4 linked regions of the Homo sapiens genome follow. The gene in region 3 interacts genetically with the main gene of each other region. Each region holds a gene or a part of one and is shown on either strand. Other genes may lie near its edges. The genes, in order: EIF4A3, ITGAV, FBXW7 and SNRPB2.

Region 1 (8,448 bases), on a different chromosome or scaffold from region 3:
TAGCATTTGGAGACTGTCATGGCTGGTGGGAGTGTCTTTTGGCAGCTGATGCGTTATAATTAGCATATAAGGAGCAGTGAGGACAGGCGGAGGCTGCTTTCATCACCATCCTGCTTTTGGTGGAGTTTGGAGGCTTCTTTACCACATCCTGTTTTATCAGCGGGTCTTTGTGACCTCTATCTTGTGAAACAAGTCCTGCCAAATTCCTACCTCACCATCTCCCCCACAGCAACCTCCTGAGCTCACAGCGCTCCTGGCCAGCTGGGACTGCGTTGTGTCCCTCCCTCTCTCTTGCCCCAGAGGTCCACACATTGAGTAAGCCAACAACTATTTATTGAACACCTACTGAGCATTAGGGAAACAGTGGGGGCGAAACAGACATGACCCTAGCAGCCGCATTTAATGGGGTGAGTAGTCTCCCTCCCCAACGTGGAAACCATGTGGGAAGTGAGATGCCGGTGACAGCGAGGATGCTGAGACCAGGCATAGGGGTCTGTCTACCTCAGTGACCGGGAGCCTCTTTTCCTAGACACCTTGGGGGCCAGGGACAAAGGGCAGGCACTATAGCTACTGTTTAGGGAACTCTAGAGCCTGGCCTGCTTGTGCCTTTCCCTGTAGGGCGCTTGAACTTATCACACTGGGCCTTAGTGTCTCCATCAGTAAAAGAAAAAAGATACCTATCTGCATTCTCTACTTATGGAGATAATGGAGGTTTCCCATAGGAACGGAAACATTTATCCAGAATTTTAAGCAGGGGACTTGTGGATAGAAAGCTAAGCGAGGCTGTCAGCTCTCATTTTTTAAGTAGATGTTATGCATAGCACAACAGAGCTACACAGAGCCGACACTTTAACAAATCTGGTGCATGACTCACAAGGCATGTTCTCAAGACATGGCTGACACGATCCTAACTGCCTACCAGTAATAAACAGAACAAGGGGTTTGGGATCCTATTGATGCTAGGGCATCTGCTGAGCACTACATAGGCCATGGAAAAGCACGCACCATATTTCACAGCAAAAACCTCTTCTCCTGAGAGGAGCTCTTGCTGCTCTCCTACATGACAAAAACATGAGTCTCCTCCCATCTATTCACCACCTACCCACACTGCGTTTTCTAAAGCCTTTTTGGCAACAGGGATGGGTTTTGTGGAAGACAAATGTATTATTCCATTTTCATACTGCTATAAAGAACTGTCCGAGACTGGGTTATTTATAAAGGAAAGAGGTTTAATTGACAGTTCAGCATGGCTTGGGAGGCCTCAGGAAACTTACAATCATGGCAGGAGGTGAAGGGGAAGCAAGGCACCTTCTTCACAAGATGGCAGGAAGGGAAAAGTGCCAAGCAAAGGGGGAAGAGCCCCTTATAAAACCATCAGATCTCGAGACAACTATCAAGACAACAGCATGGGGGACTCATCCCCGTGATTCAATTACTCCACCTGGCTTCTCCCTCGACACGTGGGGATTATAGGGATTATGGGATTACAATTCAAGATGAGATGTGGGTGAAGACACAAAGTCTAGCCACGTCAACAACTTTTCCACAGGTGGTGGAAAAAAATTCTTCCAGAGATGGATGGGGTAGTGGTTTCGGGATGAAACTATTCCACCTCCCATCATCAGGCATTAGATTCTCATGAGGAGTGCACAACCTAGATCCCTCGCATGTGCAGTTCACAACAGGGTTCACACTCCTCTGAGTCCAGTGCTGCTGCTGACAGCAGGCAGAGCTCAGTTTAGCTCCCTTGCTTGCCTCCTGCTGCACCGCCTGGTTCCTAACAGGCCACAGACAGGTGCTGATACTGGTCCGTGGCCTGGGGTTTGGAGATTCCTGCTCTAAAAAGTGGATTTACCCTCATCATCCCAGGGCCCCTCAGCCTCTAAGAAAAGAGGCCTCTTGGTCACAAAGGTGGACAGACCCATTAAGCTCTGGGTGAGCAACCCCGTCTCCAGCACCTCATGTCCCACAATGTTTGTGTGTTGGGGAGGGGTCCATCTCACGCGATTAATCTCAAGGCAGGAGAGCCCATGTCTGTTTTATGCCCCATTGTTTCCCTAGAAAGCATCGTTCACCCAGAGACTGCAGCAAACCTCAGCAGCTCTCATCATTGTCACATTGTCATAGACTCTGGGCTAAAAAGCTACTGCTCCCCAGAAAAGTTAGAGCCCTTTAAGATGTGTGTTCAGACACCTGGCATAAACAACATTTCCAGAAAAATGGTGTAAAATGTTAGATCATCTAGTCATAAAAATATGAAGGAAAACAAATCTAAGCAGTTTGTGGATTAGATTTTAACTTTGAACAAGGTGAGAGGCCTGGTAGCTCACACCTGTGATTCCAGCACTTTGAGAGGCTGAGGTAGGAGGATCGCTTGAGCTCCTGGGCTGGGGCCAGGATGTACGGTCCTCAGTAAGGCTTCTGAATAAAACTAACTTTAATTCTTTAAAAGCTTAACTGTTTTTCTTTAGTCAACAAGGTATTTTACATTCTTCTCCTACGTTAAGTCATTGAAATCTGTGTGTATTTTACGACAAAGCGCTACAGCACGGCCTGGCAAACAGTGTGAGGCACGAAATGATCCTTTGTAGAGTGAGGAAGGTATCAGAACTTACATTTTATTCAGCTTTATAAATATTTAATATTTTGGGTAACACCAGCATCCTTACAAGGAATGTTTATCAGAAGGTCAATTATCTGTCATGGATAAATTCTGGTGCCAGAATGAGATTCACTCTTGGAGAAGGCTGCATTTACTTGTTCACCCTTGAAATACTGCAATCCACCGACTTCTTGATAAAAGGATGCTCTGGTTTTCTGTTTATTTTTGAGATGGAGTCTCTGTCGCCCAGGCTGGAGTGCAGTGGCGCAATCTCGGTTCACTGCAACCTCCACCTCCGGGGTTCAGGAGATTCTCCTGCCTCAGCCTCCAGAGTAGCTGGGACTACAGACACCCGTCACCACGGCCAGCTAATTTTTGTATTTTTTTTTTAGTAGAGATGGGGTTTCACCATTTTGGCCAGGCTGTTCTCGAACTCCTACACTCATGATCCGTCTGCCTCGGCCTCCCAAAGTGCTGGGATTACAGGCGTGAGCCACCAGGCCTGGCCAGGATGCTCTGGTTTTAACTAAAATTAACCTTCATAAAAGGAGAGCTTTTCAAGCACTCCTAGAAAGAAGCTGTGGATTAAAGATGTGCCCAGCGATGCAAGCCAGATTTGTGACCATAAGAAAGGACAGGACCGGGCTCATGCCTGTAATCCCAGCATTTTAGGAGGCTGAAGCGGGCAGATCATGAGGTCAGGAGTTCAAGACCAGCCTGACCAACACGGGGAAACCCCATCTCTACTAAAAATACAAAAATTAGCCGGGCGTGGTGGTGCATGCCTGTAATCCTAGCTACTCAGGAGGGTGAGGAAGGGGAGTCGCTTGAACCGGGAGGCAGAGGTTGCAGTGAGCCAAGATTGCGCCACTGCACTCCAGCCTGGGGAACAGAGCGAGACTCTGTCACACACACACACACACACACACACACACACACACAAAATAGCGGGGCGCGGTGGCTCACGCCTGTAATCCTAGCACTTTGGGAAGCCGAGGTGGGCGGATCATGAGGTCAAGAGATCAAGACCATCCTGGCCAACATGGTGAAACCCGGTCTATACTAAAAATACAGAAAATTAGCTGGGCGTGGTGGCGCGTGTCTGTAGTCCCAGCTATTTGGGAGGCTGAGGCAGGAGAATGGCGTGAACCTGGGCGACAGAACTTGCAGTGAGCTGAGATCGCGACACTGCACTCCAGCCTGGGCGAACCGAGCAAGACTCCGTCAAAAAAAAAAAAAAAAAAAAAAAAAAAAAAGGACAGAGCTGGCGCTCGTGGAAATACAATTTTCCCAAAGTTAAAAACATGATTCTCAACAGCATGAACTGCCCTTCAAAGATGATGGAGCTGCTTCAAAAGGCGTTAGAGGAGCTGGGTACGAAGAAGCACTTAAAGTGTCAGATAAGAAAGCGGTTAGTGGCTGCGCGTGGACACCTGTGGTCCCAGGTGCTCTGGAGGCTGAGGCGGGAGGATCGCCTGTGCTCGGGAGGTGGAGGCTGCAGTGAACCGAGATCGCGCCATGGCACTCCAGCCTGGGCGACAGGGCCAGACTGTCTCAAAACAAACAAACGAACAAACAAAAAGCAGGTTAAGATGCACAACTGGTTAAAGTTCTGCTGGGCAATTAAAAAATGATCCCGTCTGGGTTATCTTTGCTGCAGGACACGCATTAGCAGCACCGTCTACTGACAAGTGGCCTTCATTAAGAGCAAATTGCAGGCTCAGCATGTATTTTATTTATAACAGCTGCTTGCCGGGCACAGTGGCTCATGCCTGTAATCCCAGCACTTTGGGAGGCCAAGGCAGGCGGATCACCTGAGGCCCCGCAGTTCAAGACCAGCCAGGACAACCCTAACCCCCGCCTCCCCCAACCCCGTCTCTACAAAAAAATTTAAAAAATTAGCCGGGCGTGGTGGCGCGCGCCTGAGGTCCCAGCTACTCCAGAGGCTGAGGCGGAGGCTACAATGAACCCTGATCCTACCACTGCACTCCAGCCTGGGCGACGGAGCGAGACCCTGTCTCCAACTCACCAGGCAAACGGTGAAGACACACCCAGGCGCGTCCCCTAAGAGGGACGCCGGCTTCAGGGGCCCTGGCCCTCCCCAGCGCAGACCCGCCGGAGCCCAGCGCCGCGCCGGGGCCCACCACCGGCGGCCGTGAGGGTTTCCACTCGAATCTCCCCGGCGAGCTGGGCGCCTCCACTACGGGTCTGCGACGCAGTCCACCCACTGCGGGCCCGAGAGAGGACCCGTGCTCGTCATTTTTATTCGAGGCGGGGCTATCTGGGGACCCCGCCCGGAGCGGAGGCCCCTCGCGGCCCCAGCCTGTTTCCAGGGAATTCAGGTCCACACGCCGCTCAAAGAACCTCAGCGCCCCAGTCCGCGAAATCCCGCGGCCGGTACGAAACACCGCCAACTTTAGAAGTACCACCCCCTCCATCCCTTTCGTAAGGAACTGGGTGCCCCGCCCTCAACGAGATCCCGCGGGAACTGCATATGGCGCGAGAGCAGAAACACCTTACTTTTCCCTGCGGCAAACGCCCAGTTCCCTTTCACGTGACGAAGAGTGCCCCGTCCCCCAGAGGCGTGGCCGCGTCGCGCGTACGCACGTACGCACGTACGCACGCACGTCTCTCGCTTTCGCATACTTAAGGCGTCTGTTCTCGGCAGCGGCACAGCGAGGTCGGCAGCGGCACAGCGAGGTCGGCAGCGGCACAGCGAGGTCGGCAGCGGCACAGCGAGGTCGGCAGCGGCAGCGAGGTCGGCAGCGGCACAGCGAGGTCGGCAGCGGCAGCGAGGTCGGCAGCGGCGCGCGCTGTGCTCTTCCGCGGACTCTGAATCATGGCGACCACGGCCACGATGGCGACCTCGGGCTCGGCGCGAAAGCGGCTGCTCAAAGAGGAAGACATGACTAAAGTGGAATTCGAGACCAGCGAGGAGGTGGATGTGACCCCCACGTTCGACACCATGGGCCTGCGGGAGGACCTGCTGCGGGGCATCTACGCTTACGGTGAGCGGGCGCGGGCCGCGGGGGCCAGCCGGGGGCGAGTCGGGGGCGAGCCGGGGGCTGAGGGCCAGACTGGTGACTCCCGGGCCGGCCCTGCGCTCCGGAGGTCGTGGTCAGGGTCGAGGCTCGGGGGCCAGTGACGTCCGACCCCCACCCCCACCCCCGTCCTCGCCCTCACGCCTGGCTGTGTCGGCGCTTTCGGTGTGTGTCCCCCGTGCAGAGCTCGGCGCTGGGTCTGTCGGGGGCTGCAGCCGCTTCGAGGCACCTCAGCGTCCTTCATTCAGCAGATAACTGATTTCTACCTATTAGCTTTTCTAGGTACTGGGGTTTTGGCGGTAAACCGGAAGGGTTTGCGCCTTTACGGGTTTTGAATTTCGTTTGGGGGGAAAGCATACTGTCAGGTTGCCCAGGCAACCTGAAGAACCTGAAGCGGGGTAATTGAATAGAGTGGGACTGGGAAGGAGGAGAGAATTAGTAAAGCAGAGAGGTAAGGGGGTTCGCAGGAGGGGGTGCCATTTGAGCAGAGTTCTGGATGAAGGAGACTGTTATGAGAAGAGGGAAGAGCAGTTGGGGCAGAAGGAACAGCTGGTGCCAGGGCCTTGCAGCCCTTAGCCAGCTGCATTCCAGGAACTGAAAGAAGTCCCCTGTGGTGGGATTTTGGAGAGCTAGTCGGGGCAGATCTAGCAAAGACGTGTAGGGTGACGAATAATTTGAATTTCATTTAGAAATCTAGTGGGAAGCCAGTGGAAGGTTTTAAGTAGCTATGTGACACGATCACATTTACAGTTTTAAAGATTCTTCTGGGTGTCTGTAGATTTGAGGTGAGGCGAGGCAAGGCAGGAGAGGAAACAAGAGAGTTGGGAGCTTTTGCTGCAGTTCAGGGAAGAGAGGATTGTGCTGCCTTGGAGATGGAGTACCAGGGAGCTGACAGCATTGGCTGATGGATTGAACGTGAGTGACAGAAGGAGGAGAGTTGGAGTGTTTTGAGTAACCGGTGGTTGATGCTGCAAACATTTGGCTAGGTAGGCAGCACTCCAGAGAGTCAGAATCAGGAGCTGTCTCTTGGTATGTTTGAAAGATGTGAGGAAGTTGAGGGAGAGCCTGGAGAAGAGGTTGGGTTGGGCACATAGATGGGAATGACCAGCATCTGGGATAAATGGCCTGTGTTTAATGCTTGGGACAGGGACATTTTTTATCCTGTAGTTCTCTTCCTTTTCTTTCTTCCTTTTCCTTCTGACAGTCCTGCTCTTGTCACCAAGGCTGGAGTGTAGTGGCATGATCTCAGCTTATTGCAACTTCCACTTCTGGGGCTCAAGCGATTCCTTTGCCTCAGCCTCCCGAGTAGCTGGGATTATAGGTGTGGGCCACCACGTCCTACTAATTTTTGTATTTTTAGTAGGGAGGGGATTTTGCCATGTTGCCCAGGCTGGTCTTGAACTCCTGACCTCAGTGATCCACCAGCCTCAGCCTCCCAAAGTGATGGCATTACAGGTGTGAGCCACCCCACCTGGCCGTATCCTGTAGTTCTTGATGCCACAACAGTTTGGACAAAGTGAAGCGAAGTTGCTGAGGATGCGTGGTGAAAAAGCATCTCAGGCAGCCTCACAGTGAGGCTGACAGCCCCACCTGGTTTCCTGGCACTCAGGCAGTCCCTGCCCTAAGACACTGTTGTTAGTTTCCCATCTATGTGCTTGCTCTTCATGAAGAGTTTAAATCATCTGCTATATTTGCATTTGTGTTAAGATGGGAAATTGTGCTACATTTTCTTTTGTTTCTTATTTTTCGCTATGCCCCAGAACTGAGCAGAGCTACATTTAAGAGACTACCAAAAAATAATTGAAATAGAGTTTTTGTACATAAAATTTTATTTACTTGAAAAACACGTGGTTCTTCTTCAAAATAGCCTCACCCTTTGGTGTAGTAGTTGCTTTGCAAGAGAGATGGTGTGATGGTGTTGTAGTTAGTGAGCTGCATCCAGACAGAACAACATAGGACACCCTGCAGCGTGACCCACGCAGGTTAAACAGAGTTGTAGACCTGTCAGCAACACACAGACTTAATGCTAGCTAGTAGGAGAGAACAATGGCTAGAGTGACTTTCCTGTTTTTTTGTTGTTTTTTTTTTTAATTTAAAAAGTAGTATAGGTTGTTTGTAATCCAGTCAAACCTAAGGGAGTAATTAGAGTAAAAAGTAAGTTTCTTTCCACCCCTCTACTGCAGTAACTGCCAGGAACATTTTGGCACTTACACTTCCAGATGCTGCACACCCAGATTTTTTTTTTTTTTTAAACAAAACTGTTGTCTATATTCTACAATTTGGTGGTTTTTTAAAAATAGAGATTGGTCTTTACAAATAATATCCCACGTTAGTGTAGAAATCACTCAGCCCAATTCATTGAGCCCCTGGGTTTTGAGAGCTTGCTATGTTGAACACTGGGTTAGGCTGGAGGACAGGTTCAAAAAACAAACCATGTCTGCCCCTGAGGAGCTCACAGTACAGGGTTTCTATGCTGTCATTGTGGTGAGGGCTAATTTTTTGTTTTTATTTGCAGGTTTTGAAAAACCATCAGCAATCCAGCAACGAGCAATCAAGCAGATCATCAAAGGGAGAGATGTCATCGCACAGTAAGTTGTCCTGGGGTGCGGCGCAGGGCTGGATGTAAATTTGGGCAGCGCAGTGCAGTTAGATGCTCTGGGATGACTGTTTCCCTCAGCTTGTACACGCTCAGTTCCAACACTTTCCCTGACTTTAGCCACAGGGTTTAATACTTTTTTAAATTTGTGTTCTCTACTGTGGAAAGCTTTCATTTTCTTTTTGAGATGGAGTCTCGCTCTGTTGCCC
Region 2 (7,482 bases), on a different chromosome or scaffold from region 3:
TCAAGGAAGCTAAATTTTGTGATTCTCAGTTAGGACTACTTGTTAACTCTGTCTTTTTAAGAGATACAGCTGTGAAAATGTATGACCTTTTTTTTTAATGCCATGGGTATTGCATAAATAGGAATAATAATAAATAGGAATGTGTAATAATTAGGACACAGTAATAAATTAGGACAGAGAGGTACTATTAATATTATATTTATTAGAATTTTATTACAAGTTGTCTGTAATATATAGCTAGCAGACTCAGTGAATTGGCAAATAGTATTTTGTTTTAATAAGATTAAAATCAGCAGATGTCACCCTGGATAAGTACGTTAGAATGAATTTTTTCACAGATCTCAGAATTGTCGTTGTTAGAATGGAGAAAAGAATAATGTTTTATTCAGAAGAAATAATGAATTTTCCTCTGTTCTTCAATTCAGGAAATGTTTATTGAATTTCATATGTTCTTGGTACCGCTGAAGCCCAGATGATAAAGTAGTGACCTGGACAGAGAAAGTGCTTCTGTGCTGTAGATCCAGTCTCTGTGACTGAACAGATGGGAACAGGACTGAAAATGTTAGCTGTTACACATTTCTTTCTAAAACAGCAGAAATGATAAGAGATTACTGTGTCCATATTGTGGAGACAACACTTGATAAACCAGCTATCCTTTCTTGGCATGGAGGGCAGGCTGATTTTTGTGTAGTCATCTAGATTTCTTGTCTGCTTAATAACAAGGTTGTGAACAAAGGTGAACTCATCCATTCAGGTTGTTTCCTAAAGATGTTTAAATTACTAGTTAAAAAATATCAATTGAACCAATTATTCTGATTATAAAAGTAACAGTATTGTTTCAGTAAATTTTTCATGTTTTAATGGATTAGTTGGGTGATAGCCTTTGATTTTATTATTCCGTGTATTTAACATTGCTTTCTAGTGATTTAAGACAAGTCCTGTTTTCTTAAATTTTTATTAGCAGAGACTACTTTTAAGTACTGGCTTAAACAGAAATAATTTTAAGTTAAGAATATCCATTTTCAAATTGAGTATGATCAAGGAGAGTTATGTACGGCTAATAATTAGAAGTACTAATATCTAATATTGTTTTCCTTCATGCAGGTACCATACATTATCTGTATCATAAAGTTTCCATTTGAAGGTTATTTATTTTATATATACACCCTTTTTTAGGTCAGCTTATTTCGGATCAAGTGGCAGAAATCGTATCTAAATACGACCCCAATGTTTACAGCATCAAGTATAATAACCAATTAGCAACTCGGACTGCACAAGCTATTTTTGATGACAGCTATTTGGGTAGGTAAAACCAAAATTTACTCATTTTTGGAACTGTGGTACATATATCTTATATCTGAGTATGGTCTTTTAAGTAGAAAAATATTTTATGTGAAATAGATTAGGATTTTTTGAAACATACAGAATATACAATTTCAAATTGTTAATGAGTACTTTGGTTATGTTACGTTTCAGTAATTGAAATTGAAGACAGTGATTATTTGTGCAGTGATAATAATAATAGCTAGCCTTTAAGATATGCTTACTGTGTTCTGGGCATTGTTCAAGGTGACTTGGTTTGTATTCACTCATTTAATCCTCACAAGTCAAGCATACTGTATTATTCTCATTTTGTAGGTGAAAACACTGAGGCACTGAGACGCAAAATAACTTGCCCAAAGTCACTCGCTTGTAACTTGCTGTTCAGAGATTCAAATGGAGACAGTCTAACTCCTGAAGTTTTCTTCATGATGTTAAATAAAAGTTTTGGTCTTTAGGACTTATTAACATGTGTTCTCTCTTTCAATTTCTTTATGATATATTAAAACAAGTCATATATGACAGAAATAGTACTTGCTGATTGAGAGAATTTATTTGTTCTTTATGATGAGTTGTAAATTTGGTGTTTTTAACAGACTCCTTTGTAAAGTTAATAAGACAATTGTAGTTTTGTAATAAAAATAGACTATTTGAGTATTTAACTCAGTTTCATTTAAAATTCATATGTCATATATATATGAATCTGTTATGACTAGGGGACAAAATATTGCATAAGTAAAGGAGTTTCTTGAAAATATTTTCAAGGAATGCTTACTCAGCAAGCCTGCTGAAGATAACGTCCTTGTCCTGATGGTTCTCCCCTTTGGTTTCCTGTTTAGGTTATTCTGTGGCTGTCGGAGATTTCAATGGTGATGGCATAGATGGTATGAAGTACTTGAACTATATCTAATCTTTAAAAAAATTAGATTAAGTATTTGAAACATGTGGCATTGAAAATTTTAAGCAGTTTGAGTGGCTGGGTGCTGTGGCTGCAGCCTGTAATCTCAGCACTTTGGGAGGCTGAGGCGGGTGGATCCCTTGAGCCCTGGAGTTCAAGAACAGTCTGGACAACATGGCAAAACCCTGCCTCTAGAAAAAACACAAAAATTAGCCGGGCGCGGTGATGCACACCAGTGTCTAGCTTCTCAGGAGGCTGAGGTGGGAGGATCTCCAGAGCCCAGGGAGGTTGAGGCTGCTGTGAGTTGTGATTGCGCCACTGCACTCCCGCCCGGGCGACAGAGCCGAGACCCTGTCTCAAAAAAAAAAAAAAAAAAGGAAAAGAAAATAAAATTTTAAGCAATTTTAAACCATTGTTATGGAATATAACAGAAGAAATGAGGAAGATGTTAGCACACTGGTGAGAGTCCAGGCTAGGTCTGTGCTGAACTTCCTCTAGTGGCTGCTGAAATTGAGACAGCTACACTTGGCTTCAGTGCCTTTCCTTTCTGCTTCTTTTTAGCCCCCAACACTGTTAGTGATTTCCTTAGCATTTTCCTCCTTGTCTTCAGCAAATTCATTCCTCTGGGAGGAAGAATTAGTGTCTTCTTTCTTTAGGCATCCTTTGTTACCTTCTGGGCCATCTCTGTACGGTTATTACCCCATCCTCTCATTGTCCATCCATCTTCCTTCAGAGCTCCGTTTAGGAATCACAGTCTTTACCTGATTTTGATCACATTTTTGTGCCACAGCCACTTCTACCCCACTTCAGTTTGCTCTGTATTATTTTTCATTACTGTACTACTAAACTAAATGTAGTTTTTCTTCATTCTTAGGTTACTTTATCTTGTCTATTCTTGTTTAACAATATTACAAATGACTTGAGGGCTTATTTGCATATGTTTGAGAGCCCTCCAGAATTTGTATTTTGTAAATTTTGATTTTATAGTTTAAAAATGCTGGGCTATTTATTACGGAGTACCAATTTTTCTAAATTGATTGTTTGTTTTGAACTGAAGTAGTAAAACTTAAAGCTTGCTGACATAGTCACTTCTGGTCTGCAACTTCCAGTGTTGTCCTAAAAAATGAATAATTTGTTTGTTTGTTTGTTTCAGACTTTGTTTCAGGAGTTCCAAGAGCAGCAAGGACTTTGGGAATGGTAGGACAGTTAAAAGGTATTTTTTAAAAAATCTCTAAGTTATCTTCTATTTTACCAGATTTCACATACTTCTATTTTTCCTTCACAGGTTTATATTTATGATGGGAAGAACATGTCCTCCTTATACAATTTTACTGGCGAGCAGGTATGCTTCCAAAATATGATCGTCCTCTCCCACTATAAAAGCAGTATGTACTCATTGGAGAAAATTTGCGAAATAAAACTGTAAAAATGAACTATAATCTCATCAAATAGATAATTCTTCCAACTCTTACCATTTTGGTCAAACTATTATCATTTCTCTTTTGAGCGTGTGTGTGTGTGTGTGTGTGTGTGTGTGTGTGTGTGTGTAGTATATAAACAAAAATTGGTTTACTCTGTATTTTTCATTTTGTCTTGCCTTTTTCACTCAATATTTTATCATCAGAGTTTCTAATTTCTTAAAACTTTCCTTGGCAGTATCAGAATGGTTTAATGATTCCATAATATTCAATATTCTAGATATAAGATGGGCTTTAAATATTTCATCTTTGTTTTAACCAAAGTAATTTGGATATTTTGGCTTGTTTTTGTTTCCTTTTTTTTTTTTTTTTAGGAAATGCAAAATCACATGCATACAAAACCACAAAGACTTCCTTTTTCTTTACTGAAAAGAAAAAAGAGAAAAGAATTCTTTAAATTCTTTTTTAAGGATGATCAATGCCTTATAATTTTATTAGATGCAACAGAAAGCATGGCACAGATATGTGTATTATAGATATTATAAGCGAACTTCATTTTTACTACATGAAATAAGATATTTCTCAGCTAAAAAAATGCTAGTACTTTTTAAGTATTAGACATTTCTCTGCGAGTACAGGCATTTTATAATATTCTCTGTTGTATGTCTCAAAGAATTATACCATAAGTTGGTAATGATGAATAAACATTTAAACAGTAGGTAGAGAAAAATCTTTCTCAAAGTTTGCAGATCTGGGATTCAAGCCTTTTTGTTCAGTTGAGATTGTTGGGCTTTGGGATAGGATTGACAGGCTGACTGACTAGACTCATGGTCCCCAGAAACCTCCTCCCATTTGTATGGCAGTCAAGATTGATGCACAACCTGGAGGGCCCTGCAGTTGACAGGCAGTTAGGGTTGCTGCAGGGGTGGTCCCTTTGTTCCGTTTTGACTTCTCCAGCTCAAGCAGCTTCTCCTGTCTGGTGACCATGTATGAGTCTGGATCCTACTGCATGCACTCAATGATACTTGCTTTATTCCTCCTTCCACTATTGGGAAGTGGGGGTGGCTAGAGAGGAGTGGGAAGCGTGGCTTTTAGATGAGGACAAACCTGGGTTTTCCATGCTCAATCTGTTATTGCATTGGATAAGGTATTTGCTGCTGAAAATCTGTTTCTTATTTATAAAAATAGGGATGCTGACAACTTCCTCATGGGACAGTTGTGAGAATCAAAAGAAAACATTCGAATCATAGTGCCCGGGACAAAGTGTGTCTCAGTAAATGCCATCCTTTCTTTACACTTCCAAGCCAAACACCATAGGTGACTAAGGCCCATGAATATTATTCTGTTACATAGTCGGCACATCAACCTTGTACCCCAAACACAGTATATTTTATTTCACAAGCTCTGAACTTGTTATTTAATACAGAACACACCTTTCATTTTCCCAATTACACTGTATCAACCCAAAATAGATAATGCAGGAATCTCCCTTATCATTCTCCCTTGATATCTGAGCCAATCAAATTTGAGAAGCATTGCTAACTTTCCTTTTTTGGTTTGTTGACTCATTTTTCACCTTACTTTATATTTAATCTGTCATCTCTTTTAGTTTTGTTTTGCACTTTCAGCTCTCTTTAGAGCTTTCCTTTTTCACATTTATTTACAGCTAAGCTGCTCATCCTATGCAAGCCTGTGGTCTCCTGTGGTAGGGAAGAGGACATTTCTGCTCCCTGTGCATTATAAGCTCATAATAAACCCAAACACATTTGTACTGTGTGTGATTCAAAAGCAAAATCATGTGGCAAGTAATCTATAGAGATATGACACAAAAATGAGCTCCTTTCCATATCTTTCCAAACAGTAATTTTTAAACAGTAGTAGTAGTTACACATAGGGGAGCCAATTATTATCTGTTATTAATAATTATTATCTATTATCCTCATGACATAGGCATCCATATAAAACTTGTTGGGTTCAATCACAACATTTGTCTGTGACTATATATCTTTGTTAGTGTGCTTGTGTCTGGTATGTTTTGGGAAGTGGAGAGAAAGGGAGATAGTAGGGTAGGCCTGAGAAGGAGAATTGATAGTCCTTAGACTTAAATGTCATATATCAACAACACTGGAAGGATATACATGTAATATATTGTGTATATACATGTAATATATTGTGTCCATGATCTAGGAAAACAACAAGCCTCATTACCTGATTGTCATTGTGTTGGTAGAATAAACAAAAGACAAGACATTTAGATTGAAGCACTATATGCAGAGAAAAAAAATAACCCTATTTGGTACATATATTACAAATGTTAATTGTCTAAACTAATTGGATGAAATATAAACATTTCATTTTCATCTTTTTATCCAGATGGCTGCATATTTCGGATTTTCTGTAGCTGCCACTGACATTAATGGAGATGAGTAAGTTTAAAAAAAAATGTTTCCAGAAAGTTATCTTCTCATGTTTACGAATACTTTACTCAAACTAAACATTTTTTTCTTCTGTTTTTGTATTCCTTTTCTGCTAATCTTTCTGTTTAAGGAAACAATTTGAAGCAACCTTAATCATGAATTCTAGAAAACCTCATATGTTTGTTCTGTTTTTTTTCAGTAGCTTTTATAACATGAACAAATAAAGTAATTTTATGAATTATTCATAGTTTCTTAAAAGAATTAAAGGAAGTTTCAAATTTGAAATGAGTGCTCTGGTAATCATTTTGTGTTTCACTGTGGGTGTGAGAGATGCAGAAAGAGGAAAAGTGAGTTGTAGTAAGAAAGAAAATGCCTACTAAGACATGAAATTTGTTCTTGCTTTGGTGAGAAGTTTCTGTTCTTCTAGTTATGCAGATGTGTTTATTGGAGCACCTCTCTTCATGGATCGTGGCTCTGATGGCAAACTCCAAGAGGTGGGGCAGGTCTCAGTGTCTCTACAGAGAGCTTCAGGAGACTTCCAGACGACAAAGCTGAATGGATTTGAGGTCTTTGCACGGTTTGGCAGTGCCATAGCTCCTTTGGGAGATCTGGACCAGGATGGTTTCAATGGTAAGATCAAAGTTTAGCAGCTACAGGTCCCTGATTATCTGTGTCCACCTGGAAAAGTTCTGTAAGTCCATCTGTAGAAGTCTACACGAGCAAATCTCCTTCCTGGAAAGGTGGATTGTGTGTAAGTGAGTAACACACCAAATTTAAAGACAGTTTGCTATTTTTCTTTAAAAATCAGAGCAAAGATTTCAATAATGGACTCTCATGAGTTATTATTCACTTGGCCTCAAATTAGAAGGTCAGAATGATTACTTTCTGAAAGGAACCTTCATTACCCTGGTGCCTACTGCTAGCTGGTATGTGTTTCTGCATCCTGCTTAGCAGCAGTGCCCTCTTCTGTTCATTTGGCTACAAGTGTTAAAAAAAAATGCTTCCAGGCACATTGTCAAGGCAATGCTGACTAATGCATACCTCAAAGGTATGATTTGCCATTAATATTTTTAAAGCCATAACTTTGTTGTAGCTGTCCAAAATGTTCTAAGGGATGTTATATCTCCCTTTATGGTGGCATATTAAAAGTATAAGCCTATTCGTTTATAATAGTACCATTTTAATAGTTGTCGATATCTTTAAAAAGCAAAGTTAGCTTTTACTTTAGAACTCTTTTCAGAAACCTGAAATATAGGTTACAAATTACCAAGATTTTTTTTTTAATCTGTTAAAAACCTTTCTAGAGATCACAGAATGGATAGTTGAACTAGTTTGTGTAATCAACAGTATAGTAAGCCTATGCCCCCTTAAAACCTAAAGGAAAGGTATACATTAAGAAGAAAACTTTAAAAATACAGATGACTTGTTG
Region 3 (7,482 bases):
TCAGCCTCCCAAATAGCTGGGACTACAGGCATGTGCTACCACGCCTGGCTAATTTTTTTTGTATTTTTAGTAGAGATGGGGTTTCACCATGTGGGTCAGGCTGGTCTAGAACTCCTGACCTCAAATGATCTGCCCACCTCGGCCTCCCAAAGTGCTGGGATTACAGGCGTTGAGACACCGCGTCCTGCCAAAAAATTATGGTAATGTTTTATTGCACGTTTGGGTAGAAATGACAAAGTTTTTGGGGTCCCTGCCTTTGAGATGCTTTTACTTGTAGGTGGTGGAGACAATCAAACACAAATTGCACAAAGCTATAGGAGAGGGGGGATAGACCAATATTTATCTAAGACCGCACTGGATGTTAGATATTGTCAACTTATAGATGTGAATATATTTTTACATTTTTCACTAGGGAAATGTTGCTTTTGGACGTGTACATATAGAACTAATTGAAGTATTGAAGCCAAATCTGGGAAGGTTTCTTTTAGGAAGAAAAGAGCAAGTGGAGACACAATATTTAAGACTTTTGGAATTGAAAGGCATAAGGGACAGATAAAATTACGAAGCTGGTTTGAAGGGAATACAGATAGAGGTTGTTGAGTAGTGTTAGGGTCAGTTGTGTTTGTGTAGACACATGATTACAGTTCAAAGAAGCAACTGAGAAGAGTGTTCCTGAGAGTAATTTCAGATGACTGGGGAGAAATTACATTTTAGGTAAAAGCTGTATGCCTGGATTAGGATTTTGTTTTTCTAGGGAACCAACATTTTTATTATATCGTGGCTATCCAGGGCTATACAGAAGGAGGAGTGAAAAAGAAGATGCTTAGTGTGTTGAAAGTGGCTTCTTACAAAAAAGAGTTTAGAAATGGGACAGTAGACTTTGCTTTGGATGTGAAATTTTAGGGCAACAATTGGATACTGGTGCAGTTTCAAAACAGCAAAATAGTTTAGCAGGTAATATACTGAAAATGTAAAGTTGGAATTATTTTCAAAGTATTTAGGTTTCCCAGAGTACTGATGGAAAGTGAAGAGCTGAAAAGTGGGTATTTTTAGTTAGGGGGAAAATCTGAATGAATGAGACACTACCTAAAATAGATGTTTTAGAAGTGGATAAGAGTTGAAGTTAAAAAGGAATGAGCAGGCTTTAAACATGGCCACCAGTTTAGTCCCAGGGTATATTATTCTGTATTTTTGAAACAAGCTAAAATTTTTTTTTTTTTTTAAATAGGGTATATAGGTCCCTTGAGATTAAGTTCAGAAGAGTATACTTAATAATAATTTCATTGTTAAGGAATTTATAAATAGAAGGACAGATTTGTTTCCTCAAATTCATGTTTTAAAGTTCACTGTGCATTATTATCCTACGTTTGGTCTTGATATGACGAAGTGAGGCCAAAAATAGCTGACAGAGAAGGCTGCTTCCCTTGTTCACAGTTGGTGTGTGTCTTTGTGTCCCATACAATGGAGGGGATATCCCTGTGTAGGCACAGTAGTGCTGAACATGCTTTTTTTTTTTTTTTCCTTTTAAACTTTTTATTAAAAAAAAGCAACTTGGCATTTAAAAAAATGTAGACATTTTTGCGGCTTGCATTTAGTATTGACTTTAACAGGATTAAGGATTGTGAGGAAGGAAATATATATTCACACTTTTTTGTGTTCCTTAGTTGGAATTCTGCACCTTCCTAGTAGCTTCTCTGACTTCTTAACAGTGATTATTCAAATGGCAGAAACTCTGGGGAAGAGATGTTTCAACAAGGAGATAGGTCTAAGGTGATTCTAGGGTGAAAATATAGGGATTGGATTATATGCCATATGGAGGCCTTCTCTTGTCATCCTCCACTTTCCACAACATTTTTTGTGCAGTCGAAGCCATGTTCAGATGAATTTTAGAAGGCAGCCACTTATAGTTAATGTTATTTACTAGTGAGGACAGTGGGAAGAGTGGTAACTTCATGTACTTTGCCTTGGCAACTTTTGGATTGATAGGGAATTAGAGAGCCTTGAGGGTATATGTTTGTGTGTGTGTGTGTGTTTTAGCACCCACCAGATGACCCCAAAGGCCATGCATAGGCTCATTTCATTGTACTTTGGAGATGGTTCTTGGAGAAGTCTTCTGGTGCTTCTGACATCTCATTGTGTAGAGAAAGAGTTGGCAAACTATTTTTGTAAAGGGCCAGTTAGTAAATATTTTAGGTTTTACAGGCCACATGATCTGTCACAACTTTCAATTCTGTTCTTATAGTGTGAAAGCAGCTGTAGACAACAAGGAAGTGAATGAATGTTGCCGTGCTCCAATTGGCCCATAGGCCGAAGTTTTTGGACTCCTGGTATAGACAACTGCCAAATCCACCAACAAACAGTATGAGCTTTATTACACTACAAAGCCAGGACTGGCTATTTTTGGTGGTCTTTGTTTTCTAGATGAGATGTTTTTCTCTGAGTTCATTTAAAATGATTCTGCATAAAGCACATACTCTACTGTACAAAATACTTTTGCCTTCATGGTGATGAAAACTATGGATTGAGGGTCGGGGTGATACCATCTTTAAAGGGATGCAGCTAAAAAGTAGGGACTACCTGCATTTCTTATCTAAAGATAACCACAGTTGGCATTTAGTGATATACTGGCTTTGTATCATGGCCAAAAGTATCTGTAAAGAAGCTTGTGGGCATACTTTTGAAACCTTCTGAAAATAAATGTAAAGCATTTACTTCGTGTGTAAAATTAGAAGTGTCTATGGTTGGTTTGAATAATATGAGTCAAATTATAAGAGCATTAAAGTTTGATACTGCTATCTATTAAAGTCTTAATCTCTTGCAGTGGCTAATTCAGTGTGTAGAATTACACATCGCAATTTTTGTTTTGTTAATTTCAAGTACTAGTGTATATTAACAAATCACTTAAATCATTTAAATGTGTACTTTAAAAAGCTTTGATGTATATACATATATATACGTATATATATATATGTACACGTATATATATACACGTGTGTGTGTGTGTGTGTGTGTGTGTGTGTGTATTTTTTTTTTTTTTGTGACGGGGTCTCATTCTGTCACCCAGGCTGGAGTGCTGTGGTGTGATCTCAGCTCACTGCAACCTCCACCTCCTGGGCTCAAGTCATCCTCCTACCTCAGCCTCTCGAGTGGCTGGGATCACAGGCATGCGCCACCATGCCCGACTAATTTTTTTGTATTTTTGATAGAGATGGGTAACAACTTTTGGATTGATAGGGAATTAGAGAGCCTCGAGGGTATATGTGTGTGTGTTTTAGCACCCACCAGGTAACCCCAAAGGCCATGCATCATGTTGCCCAGGCTGGTCTCTTAACTCCTGAGCTCAGGTAATCCATCTACCTCGACCTCCCTCAGTGCTGGGATTGCAGGCGTGAGCCACCACACCTGGCCAGCATTGCTATATTTTTAAGAGTGAATCTTTCTCACATGTGTTGTTCAGAAAGTGTAATTCACTTTGTGCAATTTTACATTACAGTTAATATTAAAATATTTGTTTCATATGTCAGCAGATACCAACATTGGATGATGGTATATTTAGTTTCATAAATCCTATTTATTTTAGGATTCCCTTGTTTATGGCAGGGGTGGAGATTACTCTTGCAATAATGATCACTTTTTAGTTAGTTTGAAACCTGCTTTTAGTTTATATGTAGTATTTCTACATATTGTTACTTAAATTGAACTAACAATTTACTTTTTAATTTTTCTTCTTCCTTTTAAAAAAAGAGTATATAATCTGACAATGTTAGTACATCTTTTAGAAGGTCACTATAAAGTTGCTTTCCCTATTTATTTGGAAAGGATTATTTCCTTATTATTTTAAAAAATCTTTTAATTTTTGTCTTTTCAAGTAATTTTATCATTGTCCCAAGCCTAAGGATGAGTGGCAATTTAAAAGACACAAGGTGTGCATCTTCTATCTGCAAATACTCCAAACAGAAATTATTCCAGTTTGTTGATACTTTGAGTGGACCAGGGAAAAATGTGTATGTTTTTAGTGTAACTGAATTGTCATTACAAAAAGATGAGTAAAGTTGCTGTTAAATAATGAATTCTTGCTGTTAATTTGTCCTGTTCTTAGACTTTCCCCCATTAAGTATAATGGGGGAAAATGTACACACACACACACACACACAAAGTATGTATGTGTAGATATACCTAGCGTATTGTGCTAGATGTTCATTTCTGCATGACTGCTCTGGAATTTAGGCAATATTAAAAGACCTTACAAAATATTTTTAATATCACTTAATATCCTGTTTTATGTCTTAATGTACTTTTATGTTTTTGCTGCTTTCTGATGATACCTCCTTGGTACTTCCTCATGATACCTTTCACAGTATGTTTAAATGGAATGTATTTTCTCAAAGTACGTGACATTTTCTGAACACTATGGGATATATATCTTCTAGTAATTATATTTTTACATGCAAGTATCTTTAAAAATTTCTTCCTATTACAACTTAAGAATTGTGAAACATTTGAGGGAGCATCTGCAGTTTGAGCACTTGATCTGGATATTGGAATGACAAACTTAACATTTAACTAAATTTTTCTGAGGTGTTCTTTTACAATTTTTGAGTTAACACTTGATTTCTGTAAAGCAGAAGGCTTATAAGAAGAAAATATGAGAGCCAGTGTTCGTCTTGTATTATCCTGCCATGCACGTAGTTGAAAATCAGAAACAAACAGAAATGCACAAGAGACCTTATTGCTTGAGTATCTTCTGCTCTTCCCCCATCAGACCTAAGGGACAGCTAGTGGATCAGTCAGATACTGTGCAGTTTCTGTTGCTATGCTGTGTCACCTTTGCCCTTTCTTTCTATCTGGAAGATAGCTACTGGAAATCTGGCTGTAAGAAAGAGATAGCATGTTTTTTTCCTCTCTCTCTCTGTGTGTTTCTGTCTGTCTGTGTACCTGTACCTAGTGTATTGTGTTAGATGTTCATTTCTGCATGACTGCTCTGGAATTTAGGAAATATTAAAAGACTACAAAATATTTTTAATATTATTTAGCCTTTTCTCTGAGAGGATCACATCCTCTGGCTTTGGCGTTTTCATCTCACAGCATCTTAAACGAACCCGTCAATGTTTATTATCAGTTCCAAATGTGAAGTCTCAAGGCAAATTGTTGGTTTGTTTTTGGAAGAATGTATGTGTGTGTGTATATATATGTGTGTGTGTGTGTGTGTGTGTGTGTGTGTGTGTGTATATAATTTTTAAATTTTTAACAAAAATTCCTGATCTAGTCAATGCTTATGAGAGTGTGTGTGGTTTGTATAAAATTATTTTTTTTAGAGACAGGGTTGCTTGTTGTCACCAGGCTGGAGGGCAGTGGTGTGATCCTTGCTCACTGCAGCCGTGACCCCCTGGGCTCAAGTGATCTTCCCACCTTAGCCTCCTGAGTAGCTGAGTAGCTGGGACTATAGGTGTGTACTGCCACACCCTGCAAATTTAAAAAAAAAATTCTGTAAAGACAGGGTCTCACTATATTGCCCAGGCTGGTTCTCAAACTCCAGGACTCAAGCAGTCCTCCTGAAATGGCCTCCCAAAGTGTTGAGATTACAGGCTGGGGCCACAGTGCCCGGTCAGAGTGTGTGTATTTTTTAACAGCCTTTTAGGATTGCATGCTTTTTAGGGGGGTGAATGAGGGGTAATATACCTTTGCATGACATTCTCTAGGTCTGAGAAGGAGTTGCTTCACTAAAAGTGTAATTTATAATTACCAAATGGTTGAAAACAGGTCTACCTGGAGTCAGCAACAGGCAGCTAGTTTACTTCTCATTTACGTAATAAAATACATTCATAATATGCATTCAGTAATTCATAATTCAATAATTTCTTGGCTTCATGGCCTTGGACAAGCTATTTATTATCCTTTTAATTTTGGTGGCATCACCTGTTGATGGAGGAAAACGTGTCCTTTACATGGTGGTTGTTAGGATTAAATGAGATAATATAAAGCATGCAAAGCTCTTAATCCAGTGCCTGGCATATAGCATTTGACCCATCAGTGTTAATTTATTAAGTTAAAGTTGTTTTAAAGTGTGTTGTAGATAGAAGATTTAAATCAGGCCTTATATTAAGCCCAACATTTAAATTCAACACTTGAGTTTGACAAATAATACTGAAGTAATTCTGTGTTTTCAGAAACATCTAAAACTTCATTAACATTTTATTAAAAACTGAAGAAATGACAGAACTGTTGGGCTTTTTTTTAATAGAAAAGAAAGACTGATTTGAACATAACTGGAATTTGAATTTAGTTTCAAAGATCTCAGTAGTGCATGGACCAGAAAAGAATCCGTTTTTGAATAGTTAGTGATTATGATAGTGACTGTGGTTTAAATTGCCCATTTAGAAATAGCAGGATCTAATTCAGTTATCAGCCTTTTTAGTTGCCCATCTCTTTAACCCCTGGAAATAAAAAGCTTTAAAAAATCATTAAGAAGTTGAACGGAAATTTTATCTGTGTCATTTACATCTCAAATTAAGATCGAAATAATTTTGTTTACATGATTCTATTTTAACTACTTAATTTTAGTTTTTGTTTTTTCCTGAAATTATTAGTATGTGGGTTTTAAAAATTCCTTTTTTTGTGTGCTTAATATTTGTTAAATACAAGATTGGTTTTCAGAAATACCTTTTCTTCGAGTAGGGCATAATCAGTGTTTTATTGGCCAATACAATAAATAAATGCTTCTTGATTGTTTTTGTATTTGGAAAGAAATTCTATGTTGAGAACAGTTTTGGTATGCTTTCCTTCATTGGCTGTTTATTGAATAGAACTGTATATTTAAGGTATATGAAAAAAATCTAAGCTAGAAAAAAAGACTGAGATACATTCTTGGAAGAAAATACTTGCAAACTATGCATCTGACAAAGGTCTATTGTCCAACGTCTATAAGAACTTAAATTTACAAGAGAAAAACGACCCCATTAAAAAGTGGACAAAGGACGTGAATAGACACTTCTCAGAAGAAGACTTACATGTGGCCAACAAGCAAAGAAAGCTCAATATTACTCATTAGAGAAACGCAAATCAAAACCACAATGAGATACCATCTCAGACTATTCAGAGTGGCTACTATAAAAAGTCAAAAAATAACAGATGCTAGTGAAGTTGTGGAGAAAAGGGAACACTTATATACTGTTGGTGGGAGTGTAAATTAGTTCAACCATTGTGGAAATCAGTATCGCGATTCCTTAAAGAGCTAACAGCAGAACTACCATTCCACCCAGCAATCCCATTACTAATGGGTATATACCCAGAAGAATATAATTCATTCTACCATAAAGACACATGCACACGCGTGTTCCTTACAGCACTAATCACAATAGCAAAGATGTGGAATCAATCTAAATGCCCATCAGTGACAGATTGGATAAAGAAAATGTGGTACATACACACCATGGGATACTGTGCAGCCATAAAAAAGAAGGAGATCATGTCTTTTGTGGGAGT
Region 4 (7,397 bases), on a different chromosome or scaffold from region 3:
ACAATGTTGGTCAGGCTGGTCTCAAGCTCCTGACCTCAAGTGATCCACCCACCTCAGCCTCCCAAAGCTCTAGGACTACAGGCATGAGCCACCATGCCTGGCCTACCAACCATTCTTTTTTTTCTTCTTTTTTTTTTTTTTTGAGACAGAATCTGACTCTGTTGTCCAGGCTGGAGTGCAGTGGCATGATCTTGGCTCACTGCAACCTCCACCTCCTGAGTTCAAGCGATTCTCCTGCCTCAGCCTCCAGAATAGCTGGGATTACAGGCGCCTGCCACCACGCCCAGCTAATTTTGTATTTATAGTAGAGACAGGGTTTCACTGTGTTGGCCAGGCTGGTCTCGAACTCATAACCTTGTGATCCGCCTGCCTCGGCCTCTCAAAGTGCTGAGATTACAAACTGAGCCACCGCGCCCGACCCCAACCATTCTTAAAAAAGAAATGCTTAGGTTCTTGCTACCCAAAATGCGGTATGGGACCAGCAGCATCAGCATCATCCGGGAGTTTGCTACAAATGCAGCTTCTCAGCACTGGATTAAGATATCTGGGGAATGCCCAAGAAATCAACAATATATCACTTTTGAAATTACACAATCAGGGCCTGACAGTCTTTTTTTTTTTTTAAAGCTGTTCTTTTTAAATTTTGTGTTTTCAAACTGTCCTAAGGCTTAAGACTCAAAAAAAATTACAGGGATTAATCATAGGGGAAGCAAAACCCATTATATTTAAAAGTTGTGTGTGCATAATATTTTATTTCATGGGAGCATCTCATGGGACTGAAATCTTAATTTTCTAGTCTCAAAGAGAACGACAGTTGTATGATGCTACTTTAGCTCCTTTAGGGAAGGGCAGGTGATACAATACTGAGCACAACCTACATGTCTCACAAAAAGTTCACCAAAAAAGTTCAGGTTTTCCCCACACTTCTTTGGATTAATGATCAGGTCCTCAAAGAAAAACTACCATTTCCAAACTTTATGGAATGTGCACATTCTCATAGCCTATCTGAGACATCACCCATTCTGGGGAGAGGGTATTTTGCTGCATGTGAAAGACACACTATTCTTAACATTAATACAGTAGTGAACATCAGAGGCAATAGTCATATTTGGGTTTCTTTCATTCCTAAAAGCAAGAATGTATCCACAAAGAATGAAATGTAAGAATTAAGTAAAATGAAAGAAAATTGCACAAAATTATTTCCTCCCTGAATTGGGGGTGGGAGAGTGGTGCTTTTTAGGAAGTTTCAGTCAACATTATCCCAACCTCCCTGGAAAACATAAACCTGATTTGGTGCTCAACAATAACGCCTAGATTTGTTTAATGCTTGTTGTGAAAATAATTTCACTCTAGATACATTTCTTAATGTAATCACCACCTGGGGAGAGAAAGAAGATACAAACGAATTGCCATACATTTTGTGACTCTATGTAACATAAATAAGACAAAATTTATCCACCAGTTTTATGGTGCATTTTCCTTTATACATGGCTCCTTCTTAAAACTACTGCAGCAAGATACCAAAAACAATTAATGAGAAACATAAAACACGTGCAGATAAGGTAGGGAAATGTATGTGTATTCAGAGTCACTAAGAGACACCTCAGTTATCTTCCTTATAATTTAGACATCTTGGCACAGTTTTATTCCCTACTGTTTGTAGTAATTTTTCTGCTACTCCCAAAATAAGCAAGTTTTATCATCTGCAAATACATGACACTTGGATAGGGTGGTTATAACGCTGCCTCCTTGTTTCTCTCGATTAAAAAAAGCCTGTTTCACAGGAAAATAAATCACGATACCTAACCCAAATGTGAAAGAACAGACTGAGCAGAACTAACAAAACTCATTTGCTCTTCTAGTTTTTAAAAATGTGAGTTTTGGACATCTGATTCCTGATCTCACCCTCAAGAAGTGGATCTGGTTATAAAGTGATGATGTTTTACAGTACATGTGACCATAGTTTAGCTGCTATAATATTCTTAATATAGTTACATAGCCAGGCTATGCAAGGTTTCTCACAAAACCAGAAAAGCTATTCGATCCTTATCATTCCCTTCCTGTACTGTTCTCAATAACTGGCTTCTCAAATCGTTCAGGAAACCACTGAGAATCATTAACGGGTTATTGGAATGCCCAGAGTGACTGCCCAAGGACAGGAAAATGCACTGGCTCTTTTTAGAAGAACCTGGAAAAGTGCATGCAGACCATTGCGGCTGAGTTGGCAATGGATGATTTCCTTCTCACAGTGTAATGTACAATAGCTGTAATTTAATTGTTAATAGAACACAACATGCAGTCTGTCTTCAGGCCTCTGTGTTTCTTGTGGTATTTTCTTCCCAGGTTGGAGTGTTTTTGTATAATCACATCTTATTCTCTTTTAACAGTTATCAACTCTTGGCTAGATCCCCTTATACAATACAGAGTATAGTTTATTCTCAGTAGTGTAGCCATCCTCATTATTATCAAACAGAACTAATTGCTGAGATGCTCATAGTAATATGCAAAACAGCTTGTCCTTTGTTATTTAGAAATTGTTTATATTAAGTTTATATTCTCTTTTAATTTGTTAAAGATATAATTCTTTGACTGAGATAGGACATTTCTTCTCATTGGTTTATTTATTTTAGAGATGAGATCTCACTATGTTGCCCAGGATGATTTTGAACTCCTGGACTCAACCAGTCCTCCTGTCTCAGCCTCCCCAAATGCTAGGATTACAGGTGTGAGCTACTACACTCAGCCATTTCTTCTAGTTTTAGATCTATATAATAAAACGATGCTTTTCTGTGATCCCTTAACATTCTCTACACTCAGGTGCATGTTCAAAGCATATTTGTTTTACTGTTGCCTAGTTTTCCATGTCATTCATTGAATTATCCAATGCATATTAATTATCAGTCACTTTTCCCATTACTAAGGGTACTTGAGTGAACAGAGCAGACAAAAACCCCACCCTTAAAAAGCTTATATTATTTTCAAGTTGTTGCAACTTTGGGTGTTTTTAAAAAATAAAAATTCCCAGCTGATAAAACCAACTTATTTGACAGCTACCTGCCTCACCAGTAGAACCAAGTTATAGCCAGAATTCAGAAATAACATTTTTGAGCATTTATTGTGTCTGACAATGTGCCAATCACTTTACATTTATTTTAGCTCATTTAATGCTTACAACAACTAGAAGGAGGTACTATTAGGATCCCTATTTTACAGATGAAAAAAGTGAAGGTCAGAGAGATTAGTTAAGCAGAGGGTACAAGATTAGGTTCCAGTTGACTCTTAACAACCATTTCATATTCCAGGTGATGCTTTACAGACATCTGATGAATGGATGGATGAATGAATGCATGCACTTTGGGAACTCCCATTCAGCTTGGCATAAATACTAACTCCTTAGAATACCCTAGAAAAATCTAGACCTTTTGTTGGAAGAAAAGAGTGGGAAGGGTGGTAGGGAATTATTTTTTCGAGTGAATTGAGGCAGATGATCTTACAGATGACTGGGTTCTAGTCAGCATGGTTGCCTTATCTGGTGAGAGATGAGAATTGGGCAGACACCAGTTCTGTCTGCCCTGGGCCCTCAAACTGAGTAGCCTCTGAGATTCAAGTTCATCAGCACAGTGTTGGAGGACAGTTCCTGCAGAGCCCCATGAATCAGAGGAGACTCGGAGGCAGGAGGAACTGGCTATCCTAAAGGTGATTTTAAACCGGGGTAGCTAGAGCCCAAAGAAGGGCGAAACCAGGACTAACTGCCCCATAGCATGAGGGGCAGCGCCTGTAAAATTACATAGGATTTGTAAAGGTGGAAGGCACTGTTGCGCCGGGTAAAGCTTCGCAAGGTCGTGGTAGGGGAAATGATTCACTCCCCTTCACTATTCCCTCGCAGCATGGTCCTCACAACCCCCTTCTCTTTCCCCATTTCCATTTCCGGACTCTTCTCCTGCCCGCAGGGCAGACGCACGCGCAGAGAGATTGCCAGCCCTGGCTGCCAGAGACCCGGAAGCATCGATCGGCTCTGTGCTCGGCTTCTAGACTTGTCGGCGCTCGATTGAGGAGCGTGGCTACGTTGCTTCCGGTGCCTGGCTCCGTTTCCTGCTTTTGGTTCTTACAGTAGTCGGCGTAGGCCTTAGGTGGGTTCGTGCGCCTTCTACCTCGCTGTTTCGGTTTTCCTGGCTCCTCGGCCCTTTTCTCCCCTGTTGCAGCTGGGAGCGGACGAAGCGCGAAGCTGGGGTGGGTACGCGTTTGGCCCGGGTTTGGATCTCGGAGGGGCAGGCTTGGGGGTGAGGAGACTGACTCTGGGGCCGGGCATCGCGTGGCAGCTCCCTTGGACTTCGTTAGGGGGCCTTGGGCGAAGGTGCTTGTGTCTGGAGAGGCGGGAGGCTTGCGCGTACGAAGTAAAGGATAGTTAATGTCAGTCTGCTCGTGCGAGGCGTGGACAGTTCACTGCGCTTTCAGGTGTCTTCCAGCGGCTCCCTTTTGGTGGTGGCGGGTAATTCAGGGTGTCCCTGTAACAACGCAGCCCACGATCAAACCTCGCATGAAACCCTGCAAGAGCCTCCCCTTTGTCCCCCTACCTTCACTTTGACCTCTGCCTCAGTCACTTCCCTTTCGTCGTCTCCTTTGCGACCCCTGCCCCTTCTCCAGATTTCGATTTAGGGGGTCGCAAGGCTTTGAGAAGCGTTACGTTTTACCTGTTACCTGCACAAGTGCAGCCCCTGCTTGTAGGCTCTTCCCTTGTCAATCATCCAATGCAGTTCACATACAGTGGATGCTCTGTAAATACTGTGAGATAAAGGAATATGTGGGGCACACAAGGAAATCATCCAAGTTCACAATTTGCAAGTAAAAACCATGTAAAAAATGCAATAGTGTGGTATATGAGGAAGACAAGTGTAGAGGAGAAAGCAAGGGCTGAATTTCCAGGCCTGATGCTTATTAGCTGTGTGACCTTAGGCAAGTTCCTTACCTGGTAATAGCTGTTAATAATAGCTACTCTTAAGTGTTTACCGCTGATGCAGAACTGTGCTAGAATTCATTTAGTCTTCTGAGTTCTATTGGGTAGGTTCTGTTACCATTCTTATTTTACTGATGAGGACCTGAGAGGTTAAGGAACTTCCCTCAGGCAAACAGCTAGTAAGAAGCATAAATAGGATTTGAATTCACATCTGGCTGATACTGGAATCTGAGTTTAATCGTCATGCCACACTGCTGTCATTGAGCTCCTTTCTTTCAAGTCGGTTAGAGATAACCTTGGAGTCCAGACAGCTTGGTGATGCTGTATACAAATTAATAGGTATGGAAGGACTTTGTAAGTGCACCCATTAAGTAGTTGGCAAACTTCATTAATGTCTAACCTTATGATTTTTACTGGATGTACATTTGCTACTTTGGTCATTTTTCTTCAAATCTACATTTTAAAATTATTTCATTGAGGAGGTGGAAAGAAAATGTCACGTGTCATAAGTGAAACGTAAGTGTAAAAATAAATGTGTTGAATTAAATGGTGTTACTAAAATCTGGCTAGGTATTGGTGCTCCAAGTTTTGAATGTGAGAAACTGTTCTTCTTCTGTATGAAAAGGAGGGCTAGTAGGTGCTGGAGATACAATAAAGGCTACAGCCAAACTGACATTTTCTGACAACTGGGATTGAAAGAGAAATGAAAAGTTAATAATTCTTGTGTTGTGTCCTTATGCCACAGTCCAGTATAATTTACTCCTTCCTTTTTATAACAGATTTTTTACTGTCTCCTGAAGAATTTAACACAAACATGGATATCAGACCAAATCATACAATTTATATCAACAATATGAATGACAAAATTAAAAAGGAAGGTAAGTGCTTTTTAGAATACTTGTTCACTACTAAAATGTGTTTATTTACTACTGTCTTAAAAATTGTACTGCCTCAAAACCTCTTACCTCATCATCTTAGTGCCTGAAATAATGGTTTATCCCATTTCCTATAGGGATTTGAAGGCTTTTAAAAAACAAAAATAGGTAGGAACTGACAGTGTGTACAGTCTGTTTCTACTCATAGATATAATGGTTTCATATAACTTTTAAAATTACATATAGCCAATGGGAATAGTATATGTTTTTATAAATATTAAAATATATAACTGTATAAATAAGTGAATGGTGGGGGGGGCAACTCAATGCAGTATCATTTTATGAAGACTTTTGTCATTACTTTATTACCAATAACTTGTTTCTTTTCTAATTTGGACAGAATTGAAGAGATCCCTATATGCCCTGTTTTCTCAGTTTGGTCATGTGGTGGACATTGTGGCTTTAAAGACCATGAAGATGAGGGGGCAGGCCTTTGTCATATTTAAGGAACTGGGCTCATCCACAAATGCCTTGAGACAGCTACAAGGATTTCCATTTTATGGTAAACCAATGGTAAGCCAATTCCATTATTTCACTTTAATCAAGAAATTAATGATATTGATGGGACAGTAGATTTGTAAATATGCTTGAAACTGTGGCTATTGCTTTCTGCTTTTAATTATGTGTGTTTGGGTTTATGTATTTTTATAGAAAAACAGTAGTGGTAGAGTTTAATTTATGACAGTTCAGATGGGCAAAAACAAAATACATTGAGATGTAGAATATTTTAAAAAATAATGGCAGTCTAGGCAATAGTCTTATCTCAAAAAGTTAGAAATTAATAATATCCTGGAAGACTTGAAAAGAAACCTGTTTGTAAACTTGTAAAACATTACGAAACAAAAGTCATGAGTCAAAGAGGAAATTCAGTCTGAAGTTTTAGAATATGTCGTAGTGAAATACTATGTGTCAGAAGCTGCACAGTCTAGATGAAACAGTGATCTAAGGAAAAATGATAGGTTTAAACTCATAGGTTTTAGGAATAACAATGGAAATGAAATGGTTATGAATGGAGAGTTTTAAACTCAGGAATGACATAATGAGATTCACATCTAGCTGCTGGATGAAGGTCGCATTGTGGGAGGGACAGAAAGGAAGTGGGAAACTCAATTAGGAGGCCCTTGATGTAAGTCAGAGATGGTAGAGGATCAGATAAGGGTGACCACAGAGTGTGAAGCAAGGGGTTTCTATGTATGAGTGAATACACCATATCTTAGGTGTGGATTCCAAACTGCTTTTTTTCTGCGATTAGAATGTGATGTGAAGGAGTGTTGGACAGAGAGCCAAGGGCCAGGGTTTAGAGGAGCTGGGTCTTCATTCTGGTTGTACTATTAACTGGCTCTGTGCCCGTGGTTAGTTTTACCACCTCCGGTAAACAAATTGGTTGTTCTTTGGTCTAATGCAGGCATCAGCAAAAACTGTAAAGAAGTACATAATACCTTAGGCTTTGTAAGCCATATATGGTTTCTGTTACCTGTTCTTTTATGTACTTACGTTTTTTAACAACC

What was found.
Region 1: changes in FBXW7 (region 3) and EIF4A3 are lethal when combined (synthetic lethality), as found in Homo sapiens cells (2 studies listed by BioGRID, with this or other methods).
Region 2: changes in FBXW7 (region 3) and ITGAV are lethal when combined (synthetic lethality), as found in Homo sapiens cells (one study listed by BioGRID).
Region 4: changes in FBXW7 (region 3) and SNRPB2 are lethal when combined (synthetic lethality), as found in Homo sapiens cells (one study listed by BioGRID).

What each region holds. Positions count from the first base shown.
Region 1 is NC_000017.11:80,143,955-80,152,402, reverse strand, and holds the start of EIF4A3 (eukaryotic initiation factor 4A-III), read left to right. Parts: upstream 1-5,274; 5' UTR 5,275-5,441; coding exon 5,442-5,610; intron 5,611-8,158; coding exon 8,159-8,231; intron 8,232-8,448. UniProt on the Homo sapiens protein: ATP-dependent RNA helicase. Involved in pre-mRNA splicing as component of the spliceosome. Core component of the splicing-dependent multiprotein exon junction complex (EJC) deposited at splice junctions on mRNAs.
Region 2 is NC_000002.12:186,634,906-186,642,387, forward strand, and holds part of ITGAV (integrin alpha-V isoform 1 preproprotein), read left to right. Parts: intron 1-1,176; coding exon 1,177-1,302; intron 1,303-2,159; coding exon 2,160-2,204; intron 2,205-3,371; coding exon 3,372-3,415; intron 3,416-3,503; coding exon 3,504-3,560; intron 3,561-6,009; coding exon 6,010-6,062; intron 6,063-6,480; coding exon 6,481-6,683; intron 6,684-7,482.
Region 3 is NC_000004.12:152,525,611-152,533,092, reverse strand, and holds part of FBXW7 (F-box/WD repeat-containing protein 7), read left to right. Parts: intron 1-2,242; exon of another isoform or gene 2,243-7,482. UniProt on the Homo sapiens protein: Substrate recognition component of a SCF (SKP1-CUL1-F-box protein) E3 ubiquitin-protein ligase complex which mediates the ubiquitination and subsequent proteasomal degradation of target proteins.
Region 4 is NC_000020.11:16,725,935-16,733,331, forward strand, and holds the start of SNRPB2 (U2 small nuclear ribonucleoprotein B''), read left to right. Parts: upstream 1-4,091; 5' UTR 4,092-4,230; intron 4,231-5,733; 5' UTR 5,734-5,768; coding exon 5,769-5,832; intron 5,833-6,229; coding exon 6,230-6,402; intron 6,403-7,397. UniProt on the Homo sapiens protein: Involved in pre-mRNA splicing as component of the spliceosome. Associated with sn-RNP U2, where it contributes to the binding of stem loop IV of U2 snRNA.